Linked DNA regions of Homo sapiens. The protein of the gene in region 1 interacts with the protein of each later gene in a biochemical or structural test. Each region holds a gene or a part of one and is shown on either strand. Other genes may lie near its edges. The genes, in order: EIF3B and PAIP1.

Region 1 (10,839 bases):
TTTGAGCTTGTGGGAAGGAGTACCCAATTTGTGTAAAAGTTGAGCTTTTTATTGCAGCCTTATAAATTCAGATCAGGCTTGTCAGGCTATTTAATTGTATGGTAAGTGCTTTAGAAGTTACCCTAGGATTTGACTAGTTTCCATAGCAGGGTGTCCGGCACTGCAGTGACTGGCAACTGCCTTTTTCCCTTTTTTTTTCTCTTGTTCGTCTCAATTTTAGCATCGTTGAAAATAAAACGGCGATTATTTTTTAAGGCAGTATTTTCAATATTTCCTTTTTTTTTTTGAGACAGAGTCTCATTCTCTTGCTCAGACTGGAGTGCAATGGCTCACCGCAGCCTCTGCCTCCCCGCTTCAAGCGATTTTCCTGCCTCAGCCTCCCAAGTAGCTGGGATTATAAGCATGTGCCACCATGCCTGGCTACTTTTTGTATTTTTAATACAGATGGGGTTTTGCCTTGTTGGCCAGGCTGGTCTCGAACTCCTGGCCTCATGTGATTTGCCTTCCTTGGCTTCCAAAAATGCTGGGATTACAGGCGTGAGCCACCATGCTGGGTCAGTTTTCAATATTTCCGAAAGTGTTTTTTTGAGACGGAGTCTTGCTCTGTCGCTGGAGTGAGCCACCATGCCCAGCCAACTTTTGAGAATAAATACAGTAAAGAATATTTTCGGACATCTGCATATTTAGTATGTTGGAATTATCATTATTATTATTATTTGAGATGGAGTCTCACTCTGTCTCCCAGGCTGGAGTGCAGTGGCATGATCTTGGCTCACTGCAACCTCCATCTCCTGGGTTCAAGCGATTCTCCTGCCCCAGCCTCTCCAGTAGCTGGAATTACAGGCACCCACCACCATGCTTGGATCATTTTTCTCGTATTTTTATTAGGGACAGGTTTCACCATGTTGGCCAGGCTGGTCTTGAACTCCTGGCCTCAGGTAATCTGCCTGCCTCGGCCTCCCAAAATGCTGGGATTACAGGCGTGAGCCACTGAGCCTGGCCGTGTTCTAAATTCTGACACGTGATGCTTTCCAGCAGCCCTGCGAGGCATTTCATCACATCAAGAACAGCTTCACCTACCACTAAGAAAAAAATACTGTTATTTAATCTCAGTGGGGGTGGCAGCTCCCACCTGTAGTCCCTGCTACTTGGGAGGCTGAGGCAGGAGGATTGCTAGAGCCCAGGAGTTCCAGGCTAGCCTGGGCAGCATAACAAGACCCTGTCTCTTTACAAAGAAAAAAAAAAGTTGTTTCAGGAGCTTGTATATTCTCCAGTCTCCTAGTTTAAGTGCCGGTCTCTGCCCTGATAGTGTTTTTCAAAAAGGCTCTTTGTGATATAATTAAGAAATGTGTATTTGGGCTCTGCCTGGCTCTTGGCACTCAGCGTCTAAACCCTTGTAATTTCCAAAGTGGTAAGTGTCTTTTTGTAGACGAGGACTTGATTGATGGCTGGGGCTCCTTGCCAGGGAACCAACCACGTGATTAGAGGGTGGGACCTTTTAGGTCTCCCCCTGCCACCCAGAAGGAAGAGGGCTGAAAGTTGAGTTGATCACCGGTGCTCAGTGATGTCATTAATCACGCCTCTATAATGAGATCTTCATAGAAACCCAAAAGGACCAGGTTCAGGGGCTCCATGCAGCGGAACAGGTGGAGGCTTCTGCAGGGTGGTGGCCTGGAGAGCACAGGGAGGCTCTGCGCTTCTCCTCCATCTGCCTTTTCGTCTATATCCTCTGTAACGTCCGTTATAATAAGCTGGCAAACCTAGCTCTCTGAATTCTGTAAGCTGCTGCAGTAAATTAATGGAACCCAAGAAGCGAGGGATAGTGGGAGCCCTGCTTTGTAGCCTGTCGGTCAGAACCGGAGGTGACAGCCCACTACTTGCGACTGCCATCTGAAATGGGGGCCAGTCTTTGGGGCTGAGCCTTCAGCCTGTGGGATCTGATGCTAATTCCTGGTAGATAGTGTCTGAATTGGATTAAGTTAGAGGACACCCAGCTGGTGGCCCCTGGAGAACTGCTTGATGCGACACCCACGTCCGGTGTCAGGCGTTGTGTTGAGTGTTACGTGAGTAGGAAAGACACTGTCACATCCCTGTCTCCTGCAGTTCAGTTGTTTATCCTTAGAGCTTTTTAACCTAAGGAATATTGGGTAAAGATTGTTCTGAACGAAGGTGCGTGGTGGTGGGCTCTGCAGCGGAGAGAGGTGGGGAAGCTCACCCCAGACGCGCTTCCTCTTTGGGTTTTTTCCCCATCCCCTGTGAATGGCCATCCAGTTCACGGCCTGAAAACATGAAAATCACTGGGAACAGGAGGTGGGAGAAGAGTTACTACTTTCATCCCAGTTCACTCGAGAGAGGGTTCCTCCTTGAATAATTTCTGGTAATTTGTATTCACAGCACAAATGTGCTGTGAATATATTGAGCATTTAAATATTTACTTGTTTGCTAAAATCTTCTGTAAAAAGTCAGTTTTCATTGACATTGGGATGGGATTCTGCCTGCCTAGATGTTGCAACAAACCTTTCAAAATCTAGGCATCTCTGGAAGATCTAATAGTGGATATTCTTGAGATGGTCTTCTTCATTTGCATTGTGCATTGTTAAAAGCTTTTCACTGTTATTCTCCTGTAGTCTTTGGTTATTACCAGAACTTAATTGACCTGTCTTGACTGTTTACATTTCCATCAAAGGGAGAGAGGAGAGTTCCAGTCCCCCCAGCTGTCATGTTTAAAATCTGAAACAAGCTAGGGTTAGGATTTCTTTTGCTCACAGTGAAAGCATTTAGACAATTCATTGTCTCTTCTTGAAGACTTGTTTAGTGTGCTCAGTTAATGTATTAATGTTTTTCTTGGTAAAAATGATCATTTGAAAAATCTCTCTTGTTCAGAATTACTGGGAGATGTACTCAAAGATCGGCCCCAGGAAGCAGATGGAATCGATTCGGTGATTGTAGTGGACAATGTCCCTCAGGTGGGACCCGACCGACTTGAGAAACTCAAAAATGTCATCCACAAGATCTTTTCCAAGTTTGGGAAAATCACAAATGATTTTTATCCTGAAGAGGATGGGAAGACAAAAGGGTGAGTGTTCTCCTGTTGGAGAAGTATCATCTGTGTCTGGCACGTCATGATGAGGGAGTGTTGCAGGAGATCCTTACTAACACAGCTCCTGCCTTGCCCAGGCACGTGGGCCGTTCACTTCTTCAGGCCGCCCTCAGCTGGAAGCTATCCAGAGCAGTGAATGAGAAGATGATAAAGTTTGTTTTTTTAAGTTAAGGTTTTAAAGTTTTTAAAATTATCTAGAATAGGCCAGCATGGTGGCTTATGCATAAACTCCCAACACTCTTGAAGCCTGAGGCCAGGAGTTGGAGGCTGCAGTGAGCTATGATAACGTAGCTGTACTCCAGTCTGGGTGACAGAGCAAGACTCTGTCTCTAAAATAAATAAATAAAGTAAAAACTAACTAGAATAGTTTTAGTTTCTAGAATTATCAAATACAGGTAATGCTGCTGCATTTTCTGTGTTGGGCAGTCAGTTGAAGGATGGCCTCTTGACCCTCAGTTACTCGTGTTATAATGAAACATTCTCTGAGGTTCTTTCTTTCTTTCTTTTTTTTGAGTCGGAGTCTCGCTCTGTCGCCCAGGCTGGAGTGCAGTGTCGCAATCTCGGCTCACTGAAAGCTCCGCCTCCCAGGTTCACACTATTCTCCCGCCTCAGCCTCCCTAGTAGCTGGGACTACTGGCGCCCGCTACCACGCCCGGCTAATTTTTTGTATTTTTAGTAGAGACGGGGTTTCACCATGTTAGCCAGAATGGTCTCGATCTCCTGACCTTGTGATCCACCCGCCTCGGCCTCCCAAAGTGCTGGGATTACAGGCCTGAGCCACCGCGCCCGGCCTCTCTGAGCTTCTTTCTAATCTTGCCTGTAATACACAATATTAGACTACTTTTAAGTTTTTTTTGTTTGTTTGTTTGTTTGAGACAGTCTCACTCTTGCCCAGGCTGGAGTGCAGTGGTGTGATCTCAGCTCACTGCAACCTCCGCCTCCCGGGTTCAAGCAATTCTCCTGCCCCACCCTCCCAAGTAGCCGGGATTACAGGCGCACACTACCACGCCTGGCTTGCTTGCTTGCTTATTTATTTATTTATTTATTTATTGAGACAGAGTCTTGCTCTGTCACCCAGGCTGGAGTGCAGTGGCACGATCTTGGCTCACTGCAACCTCCGCCTCCCAGGCTCAAGCAATTCTCCTGCCTTAGCCTCCTGAGTAGCTGGGATTATAAGCATGTGCCACCATGCCCGGCTAATTTTTGTATATTTAGCAGAGACAGGGTTTCACCATGTTGGCCGGGCTGGTCTCGAACTCCTGACCTCAAGTGATCTGCCCACCTTGGCCTCCCAAAGTGCTGGGATTACAGGTGTGAACCATTGCGCCCAGCCAAGATTTTTTTTTAAACAGCTTTATTGAGATAATTGATATACAGTAAATCTGCATAGTTTTAAAGCGTACAATTTAATACATTTTGATGTGTACATATCACGAAACCATCGCCACAGTCAAAATAATGGACGTTTTGATTAACTTTTCTATAATTATGATAATGAAACTAGAGACTTCGGATCTTCTGGTTAGGATTTCCCTGTCACTTAGGAGCTCCCTGGCTGTGGATCTGTCCCCCGTGTGACTGCCTTAGGCTCGAGGCAGGAAGAGCAGCACAGATACTCCTGGCACCGAGGGCTTGTCCGTGGAGAGGGGTGGGGCGGACAGCGCATACCTGCCTAGCCTTACAGTGTGGGTATGTGCCAACGGCCCTCTCTCACTCAGGTATATTTTCCTGGAGTACGCGTCCCCTGCCCACGCTGTGGATGCTGTGAAGAACGCCGACGGCTACAAGCTTGACAAGCAGCACACATTCCGGGTCAACCTCTTTACGGATTTTGACAAGTGAGTTCAGACTTGGCCACAAGGAAGTGGACGTTGACGTGCAAGTGACTGGCTGTGTGCGGGTGGCTTGGTGCTTCTCGGTGCTGGTGTCTGTCAGATTGTTCACATCCTTTCTGGTCAGGCTGCCGCAGAGCCATTTCACAGCCCTGCCCCACACTTCTGGCCTACAGCACCCCTCCCTGTTATGCCAGTCACAGCCCTGGGGGCGGGCAGGCAGGAGCACAGCAGGGCCATGCTGGAGCCCCCACGAGTTGCTCTTTCTAGTCGTCAGGGCGTGGGGCTCAGCAGTCTCCTTTCTTCTCCAGGTATATGACGATCAGTGACGAGTGGGATATTCCAGAGAAACAGCCTTTCAAAGACCTGGTGAGTGGCCTGAAACCTACATCTCAGTGGTTTAAAGAAATGCTGCTGGGTGTGGTGGGTCACACCTGCAATCCCAGCACTTAGGGAGGCTGAGGTGGGAGGATCGCTTAAGCCCAGGAATTCAAGACCAGCCTGGGCAACAAAGTGAGACCCCCGCCTCTACAAAAAGTAAATAAATACATACATTAGCTGGGCCTGGCATGCACCTGTATTCCCAGCTACCTGGGAGGCTGAGGGGGGAGGATCACTTGAGCCTGGGAGGTTGAGCCTGGGAGGTTGAGGCTGCCGTGAGCTATGATTGTGCCACTGGACTCCAGCCTGGGCAACAGCGTGACTCTGTCTCAAAAAAAAAAGAAATGCTAGACGGTGTCTTGACTTGAGGTTAGGGTGTGACTTGGGAGTTAAGATGTGGACTGAACTTGTCATATCTTTAAGAGCAATAGTTGTGAATGAGTTTTTTATTAAAATTAATGAAATGTTATATTCCTTGTCTTTGTTTTTAAGGGGAACTTACGTTACTGGCTTGAAGAGGCAGAATGCAGAGATCAGTACAGTGTGATTTTTGAGAGTGGAGACCGCACTTCCATATTCTGGAATGACGTAAAAGACCCTGTCTCAATTGAAGAAAGAGCGGTGTGTATTTGCTGCTGCTGGGGGCGGGGACTCACCTCTCCTGTATTTCCTTAACAAAGTGGAACTTTGTTTCTATCAGAAAACTGGAAGAGCAGGTGACGTTATATTTTCTTTGAGATTACTTTCTGAAAACAACTTCTTTTATTCCTCTTCCAGCTTTGAAGTAAATCCTGAGAAGTGAACAGGCTTTGTGTATTTCACTTAAGAGTTTGCAGAATAGGCCGGGCGCGGTGGCTCACGCCTGTAATCCCAGCACTTTGGGAGGCCAAGGTGGGTGGATCACGAGGTCAGGAGATTGAGACCATCCTGGCTAACACGGTGAAACCCCGTCTCTACTAAAAATACAAAAAAATTAGCTGGGCATGGTGGCAGGCACCTGTAGTCCCCGCTACTCGGGAGGCTGAGGCAGGAGAATGGCATGAACCTGGGAGGTGGAGCTTGCAGTGAGCTGAGATTGCGCCACTGCACTCCAGCCTGGGAGACAGCGAGACTCCGTCTCAAAAAAAAAAAAAGTTTGTAGAACAGATTCATTGTAGGATAAATTCATTGTAGGAGGGGTCTTTGTGTTTGCCATTTTGTTGTATTAACGTTGGCACTGCCTTTTTCTGCAGAGATGGACAGAGACGTATGTGCGTTGGTCTCCTAAGGGCACCTACCTGGCTACCTTTCATCAAAGAGGCATTGCTCTATGGGGGGGAGAGAAATTCAAGCAAATTCAGAGATTCAGCCACCAAGGGGTTCAGCTTATTGACTTCTCACCTTGTGAAAGGTAAGCTGCTAGAAAAACACAGGGGAGTCTATGCATTTCACCCCATGCCAGCCTTCTACAGGTGATCTTTCATTTTGTAGCATTTCAAACTTAGTAGAAAAATACGGGAGTATGCAGAACGCTAATAAGCTTTTTACTGAGATCTTCTCACATTTGGTTGCATTTACGTCATCATCTCCTATACAGATATTTTTTCCTGAGCCATTTGGGAGTGAGTTGAAATAACATGTCCCTTTAGCCCTGAATGTGTATTCCTAGAAATAGGATTTTGTTAGTGTGACCATAGTGTGGGTACTGACTTCAGGGATTTACCATTCATTTAATACTTCAATGTATTGCCATATTCTGATTTTGTTACTTGACCTAATAATGTTCTGTATAATACTTACTTTCCTTCAGTTCAGGATCTAGTCTAAGGTCACGTATTTTACAGATAATAAATTGTCCTTCCTCTATCACCCAGGCTTGGCGCCACCCAGTGGCACCATTGCAGGCTCATTGCAACCCCAGCCTCCCAGGTCAAGCGGTTCTCCCACCTCAGCCTTCCTGAGTAGCGGGGACCGCAGGCACACGCCATGACATATGGCTAATTTTATTTTTTGTAGAGATGGGGGTCTCACTTTGTTGTACAAGGTAGTCTTGAACCCCTGGGCTCAAGTGATCTCCTGCCTTGACCTCCCAGAGTGCTGGGATTACAGGCGTGAGCCACCGCACCTGGCCGAGCCGTGATTTTTGATCTAGCTAATCCGGCTGTCGGAGGCCTGCTAGGGAAAGGGGCGGTTGTGGGAGGCAGTGTGAGGCGAGCTGGGGCCACTCTAGGGAAAGGGACAGTTGTGGAAGGCAGTGTGAGGCGAACGGGGGCCACTCTAGGGAAAGGGGCAGTTGTGGAAGGCAGTGCGAGGCGAGCTGGGGCCGCTCTGTTTTCGCCCTCATGGGTTGTGTCTGCCTTCCCCTCTGGTGTTGTAAGGGACCGTCTGTTACACACTTTGTGTGAACTGAGTAAGCAGGTGCAGTAGCTCCAGACAAGCCAGCAGTCAGGTAAATCATGGCTGGGAGGAGCCCCCAGGCTCTGAAGTTTCTATCAGACCTGTGCTGGCTTTCGAACTGGATGGGACTTGTTTTTTTGTTTGTTTGTTTGTTTGTTTGTTTTGTTTTTTTTTTTTTTGAAACTGAGTTTCATGCGTCGCCCAGACTGGAATGTAGTGGCACGATACCAGTTCACTGCAACCTCCACCTCCCGGGTTCAAGCTATTCTCCTGCCTCAGCCTCCTGAGTAGCTGGGATTACAAGTGCCTGCCACCACGCCCGGCTAATTTTTGTATTTTTAGTAGAGACAGGGTCTCACCATGTCGGCCATGGTTGGCCAAGCTTGTCTTAAACTCCGGACCTTGGGTGATCCACCCACCTCGGCCTCCCAAAGTGCTGGGATTACAGGTGTGAGCCACTGCGCCCAGCCGTATTTTTTTAACTTGTTAGTCTTTATTAAACATGGGTAAAGATAGAGTTCCACACTGCGCCACCCTCTGGATCACTTAGCAGCCTTGTGTGGGATCGGTGAGATCTTCTGTGCTGATCTTGGAGAAACCGGAGCGCCTGCAGCGTATTGACACCAGAATGAACAAGCGCCGCTGCTTCCCGCTTCCGCTTGGGTCTCTTGGGGCCGGGCAGTGTGGGGTTTGGGGAGAGAGCTGGTTCCGCGAGTTCTGACGGCGTGTTCTGGCCGCACAGACAGACTGTGATCCTCTCGTGAGAGGAGGATAGTGTACAGTGTTGCCCTTCTCTTCTAGGTACCTGGTGACCTTTAGCCCCCTGATGGACACGCAGGATGACCCTCAGGCCATAATCATCTGGGACATCCTTACGGGGCACAAGAAGAGGGGTTTTCACTGTGAGAGCTCAGCCCATTGGCCTATTTTTAAGTAAGTGGACCATTGTAACGAGCTCTGTAGCCTTTGTCTTTTCATGGGAATACCCTGGCACTTTTGTTTTTCTTAGGTGGAGCCATGATGGCAAATTCTTTGCCAGAATGACCCTGGATACGCTTAGCATCTATGAAACTCCTGTAAGTGGCCTCAGTGATGGCAAACGCCCCGTCCGGTCCTTGCTTGTAACCGGGGTGTGGTGCCTTTCCTTATTTGTGCTAGAAGAGGAGGAGGAGGTTTCACAGATGCATAGGAAAGGCCTGTCTCCTGTGCCTTTTTAACTGCCCCTGCTCTGGGCAGAGCTCTTCAGTCACTCCTGCCCACCTGGCGCAGCCGTGGGAAGTCCTGGATGGGAGTTAATGCAGTGGGCTTCAGAACTGCAGTTCTGGGTGGCGGGTGGGTGGATGGGTTCACTGTCACGCTCTGTGTGCACTGCCCCCTAGGCAAACTCACATCAGACTCTTGTTTCCTTTTGTAAAAAGTTAGGTGTGTTTCTGAGACACTGACATGATTTGACTCAACTGCAGCCTTCCTTTTTTTTGGGCAGTCTATGGGTCTTTTGGACAAGAAGAGTTTGAAGATCTCTGGGATAAAGTGAGTATTCTTATCAGTTTGGTGTCTTAGTGTGTTCAGGCTGCTTAACACAATACCAAAAAAAAAAAAAAAAACACAATACCATAGGCTGGGTGGCTTATGACAGCTGAGATTTCTTTCTCCCAGTTCTGGAGCTTGGGAGCTTGAGGTCAGGGTGCCTGCAGACTGTCTGGTGACGGCCCACCTCCCTCCTAGTGGACAGCCCCTCGGTCCAGCCTTCCCTGGAGGAAGGCCTCCGTGGCCTGTTCTGTAAAGTCTCTCATCTCATTCCCAAGGGCTTCCCCCTCAGGACCTCCCACCCCCCAAAAGGCCCCACCCCATGCCGTCACCCCAGGGGGTTAGAATTTCACCCTGTGAATCTGGGGGACACAGACGTGGTCCATTGCAGTTGGTTTCCTTTATTTGCTGTCTCTCCTTTAGCACTCAGCTTTTTGTTGTTGTTGTTAGAGACAGAGTCTCGCTCCGTCAGGCTGGAGTGCAGTGATACGATCTTGGCTCGCTGCAACCTCCACCTCCTGGGTTCAAGTGATTCTTCTGCCTCAACCTCCCGAGTAGCTGGGACTACAGGCATGTGCCACCAAGCCCGGCTAATTTTTGTATTTTTAGTAGGGATGGGGTTTCACCATGTTGGCTGGGCTGGTCTCAAACTCCTGACCTTGTGATCTGCCCGCCTCAGCCTCCCAAAGTGCTGAGATTACAGGCGTGAGCCACCATGCCCAGCCTGTCACTCAGTTCTTAACCAGTTGGAGAGAAAACGGTGAGTTTGTTCTTTTTTTAAAATTTTTTTTTTTTTTTTTTTTTTTTTTTTTTTTTTGAGGCAGAGTCTTACTCTGTCTTGCAGGCTGGTGTAGAGTGGCGAGATCTTGGCTCACTGCAATTTCCACCTCCTGGGTTCAAGTGATTCTCCTTGCCTTAGACTCCCAAGTAGCTGGGACTGCAGGTGCCTGCCACCATGCCTAGCTAATTTTTGTATTTTTAGTAGAGATGGGGTTTCACTGTGTTGGCCATGCTGGTCTCAGAACTCCTGACCTCAAGTGATCTGCCCACCTCAGCCTCCCAAAGTGCTGGGATTACTGGCGTGAGCCACCACACCCAGCCATTTTTAAATCTTTTTTGAGACAGAGTCTTACTCTGTTGCCCAGGCTGGAGTACAGTGGCGTGATCTCGGCTGACTGCAGCCTTCACCTCCCAGGTTCAAACGATTCTGGTGCTTCAGTCTCCTGAGTAGCTGGAATTACAGGCGCGCAACCACTACGCCCAGCTAATTTTTTGTATATTTTAGAAGAGTCGGGGTTTCACCATGTTGGCCAGGCTGGTCTCGAACTCCTGACCTCAAGTGATCCGCCTGCCCGCCTCAGCCTCTCAAAGTGCAGGGATTACAGGTGTGAGCCACCGCGCCCGGCCTAAGGTGAGTTTGTTCTGGACACAAGGATGGAGGCTTGAGTCAGTGGGCAGCAAGGCTGCTCAGCATTGGGCCCGCCACCCTTGAGGCACCACTTCAGTGACCCCTTCCCGTGCCTAGAAATGAATTTTCAAGGCCAGAGCCTTGAGTCGGCTTCCTTCCATCTACCTCGTCTTTGATCTAGAAACTGAGGAGGGTGGGGTTTCCAGCCTTTTAAG
Region 2 (7,219 bases), on another chromosome or scaffold:
TAGAGGATGGCAAGGAATGCCTAAAAGATGCAGTGGCTCAAAGTAGGTGGACTAACATGACTTTATATACTGCTCGACAGCCCCAAAGTCACTTGAACCACGTAAAAATAGTTGATACACGATTATTACATACACAAACACACCCCTGTATCCCTCCATCATAAAACAGCCCAAGTCAATAGGGAAGAAAATAAATGGGAACCTGCTTGTAGCTGCTAGAACAAGCATCCTTAAGAGTTTATTCAACCTCTTACAGTGGCTCTAATGGTTCTTTTCCTCTGTGAGCTAAATACAATTTTCTGGCAAGAACTCAAGATGCTCTCATTTCTACCTTACACGATAGATGGCCTTTTTCACCCCATATCAATTGCTTTTCCTGCTATGCCTGTATCTTTTTCTTTCCAATCCCAAAGCTTTTTCCTATACAGCATAAGAATCATGGAGTATCTAAAACATGGAACACAGCTTTTTCCATACTTTTACTGTCAAATATGGAAGGAGAGCCAAAAAGAGGTAATAAAAAAGGTGTGTCATTATCAGTTATAAGGGAAATATAAATTAAAACCACAACTAGATACTATATGCCCACCAGAATGGTTAAACAGAAAATACCAAGTGCCGACCAGGAAGCAGAGTAACTGGAAATCATACACTACTCAGAATGTACAGTGGAACAATCTCTGGAAAACTACTTGGCAGTCTCTGCTAAAGCTGGCTACCCTAAGTCCCAGCAACTCCATACCTTGGTAATATACCAAAAAGAAATAAAGGCATACAGCCAGCAAGACACAAAATGTGCCCTATTCATAATAACCCAAGAGTGAAAGCTACCAACGTTCATCAACAGACAAATGGGATATATTCATGCAATGGAATGTTATAAAAATAAGTCACCTCCAATTATATGCTACAATATGGAGTAATCTTGATATTGAAAGTGAGAAAGAATATATTCTATATGACTTTATTTATATAAACTTTGAACACAGGCAAAACTATCCTATGAAGTCAAAACAGTGCTATACTTGGACATCAAGAACAACTGGAAGGAGACAGAGTGGGTTTTCGGGATGTTGATAATGTTCTATTTCCTGACTGGGATGCTGGTTAGTTGAGTGTTCACTTTATGAGACTGAGCTAACACTTAAGTACACTATTCTCTGCTATACTTCAATAAAACTAAGAAGATAGGAAAGACAGGATTTAAGCTAAAGTATCATCAATCATTTCTCCAATGATTCCCTCCCACTTCTCTATAATTAATCCCTATGCATTTACTCATCTGGGTTTATCCAGTACAACAAATTCCTTTCTACATATTCCAACTGTGCTTTGTACGGCTATTTAAGAAAAGTGACTATTTTTTAAAGTTGTTATATAAGTGACAAAGAAAAACTGAAAGTTTAAACATTCTTTATACCTATGTAAATACTTTATCACAACCCCGTAGGACATTTCTGCATACAATAATTAGGATCAAAACTATGTCTATTTTAACATAATGGAATAATCACTAGAAACAAGAACACAGATGTGTATCTCAAGCTTACATTCTAATACCTTGAATATAACTACAAAATGTATTTCTGAATCAGCTTTGTTTCCTTCTGAGTTCAATAATTCAAAACATTCACAATAAAAAAATTTTTTTACGTGTAGTACAGAAAGCACAAACATACTCTGATTAACAAAGTAACAACCACATTATTCCAGTAAATTAACCCAGAGTTGTAGGAAAAAGGGTGTACTTACTGTGTAACTGGAAGAATAACCTGAAGGGTAAAATTCAGGGGCATTCACAGACAGCTTAGACATTAATACAGGAGCTACAACCACCTGGGGCTTAGCCATTGCTGACTCCGAGTTCTGCTGTGGGATTTTATCCTGTGAACTAGGTGGAGCTCTCAGGGGCCTCGTTTGCTCTGCAAAAGAAAAAAAAACGGGGCGTCAGATGCATTCTTTCCTTTGTACAGCAACTTGCTATATACTGAAAAACCATCTGAAAAGCGTCTGTTTTTAAGAGTTAAACAGGAACCATCATGAAATTTATGGTTATCGCCGGAATGTGTACAGACAGCCTACAAAAAGGAACAATAGACTTGCTGTGACTCCGTTATGGGCATACCTGCCTCTCAAATGAGTGCTTGCGAGCTTTTTTCCTCTCTGTCGTTTTAAAGGGGTCGGTGGAAAAGAGGTGGTTACTCGCTAGGGTCTCGCTTTAGAGGGCTGCTGAGGGGAGGCGATTTTTACTTCCTCCCGGGACCCCGAACTCCGAGACCGCGCACCCGGCCCCTCCCCCCAGCCAGGCGCACAAAGGATTCCAGCAGACACCTTCCAAACCCGGTTCCGGGCCCGTCCCTACCCGGTCACGCGGCCCTCTCGGGGAATGCTTTCGGGGAACCGGGGGTGGGGACCGCAGACAGCGCGTCGGGCCTCGGCACGCGTGGAGGGCCGTGGGGAAGCGTTCGCCAAGGAGGACTGGGGCCCTTAGAGCTGCTCCGTACCTGGGAGCGCCCCGGGCCGGGAAGGCCGCTGGGGGCTGGCGGGGACCTCGCACTGGGCCCCTGGCGGCGGGGTCGTCCTGGGCTGGCGCAGCGGCGGTGGCTGCAGGAAGCCCGGGGCTTTGGGTTGCGGCGGCTGGTGCCGCGCCCGCTCAGCAGGCCCCGCTCCGTTCGGGAAACCGCCGCCCTCAGGCCCGCCCCCTCCGCGGCCCAGGCCCCGGCTCCGGCCCCGACCAGCACCTGGGGCCCGATCGAAACCGTCCGACATGCTCCTCCTCCTCCGCCTCCTCCTCCAGGGGCCGCTGCCGCTGCGCTCGCGATAGGACGCGGGGGGAAGGCGCCGCGGGTCGGCTATAGCCGCCGCGCCTCACTCGGGCCTCATGGAGGAGGAGGGCGGCGGGCCCCGGCTCGGCTGCTCGGTGCTTCTGGCGGAGCGGACGGCAGCCCGAGCACCCGCCGCTCCAGAGCGCCCGCCCCGCTCGGCTACCCTCGGCTTTCCAGTTCTCCCCCAAAACCCGGCTCCCCGCCTTCGGCGCGGCAGGGGCGCAGGCGGGTCACAGCGGCCCCCTGCGGCCCGGAGGCCCGGGACGCGCCCGCGAGGATCCTCCAGTTCGCGGCTGGCCGGCCGCCGGGCCCAGCAGGCCGCCCGCCGAGTGGCGTCTTGGCCACCTGCCGGCCCGCAGCCAGGCTCGGGCAGGGGCATCTCGGTTCCGGGGCCAGGCTGGGGGGGATGAGGGATGAGGGGTGAGGGGGACGCTTACCACAGGCAGGCCCGACCTACTCGGTAGTTCTCAGGAGAGACGTGCGAGACCGACAGTTGACGCCCGGGAAATAAAAACACGGGGGGAGGGGGCGTGGACCCTGCGCCAGGGTTCGCTGGCGCACAGGTGTGTTCAATGACTCGGCTCCGGCCGAGACCCGCGGACTGCTGAGGAGTGGTCCCTGGGAGACTGTCACCTGCTCCGTTAGCATCGGGGGAAGGGAGTAGAAACGGAATCAAAATATGTGTCCCCTCTTTAATTCACCCTAGGTGTTTACCACAGTAGGTCACACCTACGTTTAACAAGCTTCGTTCTCTTCCCGTTAACCTTCCCCTCCAGAAATTTCAAGAAAATGTGCTACCTTTCAGTGTAACTCTGCCCTCTTTTTCATCTTGCATCAGTGCTGTCCAATGAAAATATAATGCGAGCCACAAATGCAAGCCACTTATGTAATTTTACATTTTGGAGAAGCCACATTAAATGAGTGAAAAGAAACAGGTGTGGCCAGGCGCAGTGGCTCACGCCTGTAATCCCAGCACTTTGGGAGGCCGAGGGGGGCGGATCACCTGAGGTCGGGAGTTCGAGACCAGCCAGACCAACATGGAGAAACCCCGTCTCTACTAAAAATACAAAGTTAGCCGGGCGTGGTGGCACATGCCTGTAATCCTAGCTATTCTGGAGGCTGAGGCAGGAGAATCGCTTGAACGCAGGAGGCAGAGGTTGCAGTGAGCCGAGATCGTACCGTTGCACTCCAGCCTGGGCAACAAGAGCCAAACTCTGTCTCAAAAAACAAAACAAAACAAAACAAAAACCAGGTGAAATTAATTTAAATTTATTTAATCCATTATGTTCAAAATGGTTTTTTAACATGCGATTTAAAATATTAAATATTTTCTCTGTTTTTTAGATACTAGTTGAAATCCAGTGTATATTTTACACTTATGGCACATCTTAGTCGGGATTGGCACATTTCAAGGGCTCAAGAGCCACATGTGGCTAGTGGCTACTGCGTTGCACAGCACAATTCTAGATTTTATTAATATGTAAATTGTTGTTTTTGTCAGGCCTGACAGTATTAATGCCAAATAAAGGATAGATGAATATAAGTAACGACAAGGAAGGAAAAATTGATTTCTTTACTGTTGGATTGATCCATCTCCATAAATTCTGATTTTAGCCTTTTGTTTTAAGCAGGGTTTCATGTTTTTCTATCTTTTCATCTTAAGAATCATTTCAATTAGGGACACAAACTCTTGTTAACCGTTTTCTCTTCTCATTAATAAAGAAAACAATGTCTTCCCCTAAACGAATGAGAAAATGGCTTCACCGAGGGCAATCATGAATAAATGGTTCATGCTATTGATGTTAGGCAAAATAATGAAGTCAGGGAAGGAAGCCAGCAGTACGTGTGGCTCTTCGGTGTACGGAAAGTTTAGGATTCAGTCTGCCAGAGCTTAGTTGGGATTCCACTCTTGACTATTGCTGTCTGTGTGATTTTGAGTAAGTAAGGGGTTTAGCTTCTCTGAGCCTCACTTTCCTCATCTGTAAAATAATAACTGTGTGGTAACACTCAGCATATATTGCAGAGACAAGATTACAATTTAAAAATTACAATTTTAATATTTTCAAATTCATTATTGTATGTGGTCACCAGTCACTTCTTGCCTGGACTTTTTTATCATACAGGAAAGACCCATAAACTATGCTAAAAAACTAACAATGAGTTATGTTCCACTGAAGTAGATGCCCCAACTCTGCCCCAAGCTTTTGTTTGCACTCACCACCTTTTCATTTCCCCTTAAAACTTTTATGATGAACAGCACCTTTTCTAACAACTGGGACTTTCCCATGTGAAGATAAGGCCATTCTGCATCCATGGTGATGTCACGACATCTTCACACCCTCTTGTTAGGAAAATTAGGTAAGATATCCTTTGCCTTCTCTGTATTTGTTACTGTATAACTTTTGCCCTATTCTTATAATGTGTGGATGGTGGACTTGGAGATAACACGAATGGATTTTGCATCATGATAATAAAAATATCTAATATTTATTATGCGTCAGTCACCTTTTAAGAGCTTTTATTTTATCATTTTATTTTATCCTCATATCCTGTGAGATAGACATTCCAATATTTTCACTTTACATAAAAGGTGCCAAGATACCGCAAGGGCTCAGATCCATCTTGGGACTGTTTTAGAGCTAACTGGCAGGTATTGCAAAATGCATAGACAGAAACACATGAACGTGTGAACACCATGTGGAACTCCCTAAAGAGAATCATCAAAGTGCTCCTCATCCACGTGTATGCCTTTTTTATTAATTTATGGTGAAAGGAGAGTAGAACTAAATTTGGACAAATTGGAAAATATGTTGTAATATGGAAAAGGACCTGCTGTGAACTATGAAAAAAATGTTTCCTTAAACTGTACTTGAAAGGCATTCTCCAGTAAGACTTCCCAAGCTGCCTAATCTTAGATTCTCTCCCTTGTGATAAGTATACCCTGGGAAAACTGTCTTGGTACTTAGCATGCCAGATTGTTATCGTTAGTATTTGGTTTATTTAAATGTCTCCTTCCCTAAACTAGCCCTCTGAAGACAGAGGATGCCTTTTAATCCTTTAGGTCCAACCCAGTACTTAGTCCATAATAAGCTTTTAACAGAAATAGGACTCACCTGCAATGGTCCTGCCTTTCCTTAGGTCACCAGTCTAGTGATGGTAAAAAAAAAAAAAAAAAAAAAAAGACTGTTTTTTTAGAACTTATTGACCTCAGGATCATCATTAGACCTTATGGGAGTAGACAGTACAGCCTTCAAGGCCAGCTAACAGGAGAAAATTTTCATAAATATGCAAGAGGAAATATTTGCAAACCACATGGTATAGTTTGTATATTTGACCCTCCAAGCCTCCTGTTGAAACTTGATCCTGAATGTTGGAGGTGGGGCCTAATGGAAGGCGTTTGGGTCATGGTGGCAGATTCCTCATGAATGGCATGGTGCCATTCTCACAGTAACGAATGAGTTATGGTTTTACTAGTTCCCAAGGAGTTTCCCCAAGAGCTGGTTGTTGAAAAGAGCCTGGCACACTCCCCCTGTCTCATGCTTCCTCTCTTGCCATGTAATCTCTGCACACTGTCTCCCCTTCACTTTCTGCCATGCATAGAAGCAGGCTGAAGCCCTCACCAGAAGCAGATGTTGGTGCCATGCTTCTAGTACAGCCTGCAGAATAGTGAGCCAAATGAAACCCTTTTCTTTATAAATTACCCAGCCTCAGCTATTCCTTTATAGCAACAAAAATGGATGAAGGCACCACATATTTGACAAAAGACTTGTATCTAGAATATATAAAGTACTCTCAGAACTCAACTGTATTGAGAGTACTATAGCCAGGTGCGATCCCAGCACTATGGGAGGCTGAGGCGGACAGATTACCTGAGGTCAGGAGTTCGAGACCAACCTGGACAACATGTGAAACCCCGTCTCTACTAAAAATACAAAAATTAGCAGGCATGGTGATGCGTGCTTGTAATCCCAGCTACTTGGGAGGCTGAGGCAGGGGAATCGCTTGAACCCGGGAGGCAGAGGTTGCAGTGAGCCGAGATTGCACCACTGCACTCCAGCCTGGGTTGAGCGTGACTCCGTCTGAAAAAAACCCAAACAAACAAAACACCTAACTCAACTGTAAAAGGACAGTTCAGTTAGAAAAGGGCCAAACATAAATGAAAGAACACTTCACTGAAGGGAATATACAGATAGCATAAGCCTATGAAAAATGTTCAACATAATTAGCCAGTAGGAAAATTTTTTTAAAACCACTGAGATTTCACTACCTACTTATTCGAATAGCTTAAATAAACAATAGTGACAATGCAAATTCAAGGATGTAGAGAAACTAGGAACTGTGTTGCTCATACATTGCTGGTGAGAATGTAAAATGCTATAGTCACTTTAGAAAAC

Evidence for each region.
Region 2: the proteins of EIF3B (region 1) and PAIP1 form a complex in vitro, tested with the Homo sapiens proteins (one study listed by BioGRID).

Annotation. Positions count from the first base shown.
Region 1 is NC_000007.14:2,357,827-2,368,665, forward strand, and holds part of EIF3B (eukaryotic translation initiation factor 3 subunit B), read left to right. Parts: intron 1-2,883; coding exon 2,884-3,076; intron 3,077-4,818; coding exon 4,819-4,938; intron 4,939-5,243; coding exon 5,244-5,301; intron 5,302-5,805; coding exon 5,806-5,934; intron 5,935-6,545; coding exon 6,546-6,703; intron 6,704-8,490; coding exon 8,491-8,622; intron 8,623-8,698; coding exon 8,699-8,765; intron 8,766-9,107; coding exon of another isoform or gene 9,108-9,131; exon of another isoform or gene 9,132-9,146; intron 9,147-9,172; coding exon 9,173-9,219; intron 9,220-10,839.
Region 2 is NC_000005.10:43,554,078-43,561,296, forward strand, and holds the start of PAIP1 (polyadenylate-binding protein-interacting protein 1), read right to left. Parts: upstream 3,001-7,219; 5' UTR 2,770-3,000; coding exon 2,505-2,769; intron 1,923-2,504; coding exon 1,753-1,922; intron 1-1,752. UniProt on the Homo sapiens protein: Acts as a coactivator in the regulation of translation initiation of poly(A)-containing mRNAs. Its stimulatory activity on translation is mediated via its action on PABPC1. Competes with PAIP2 for binding to PABPC1.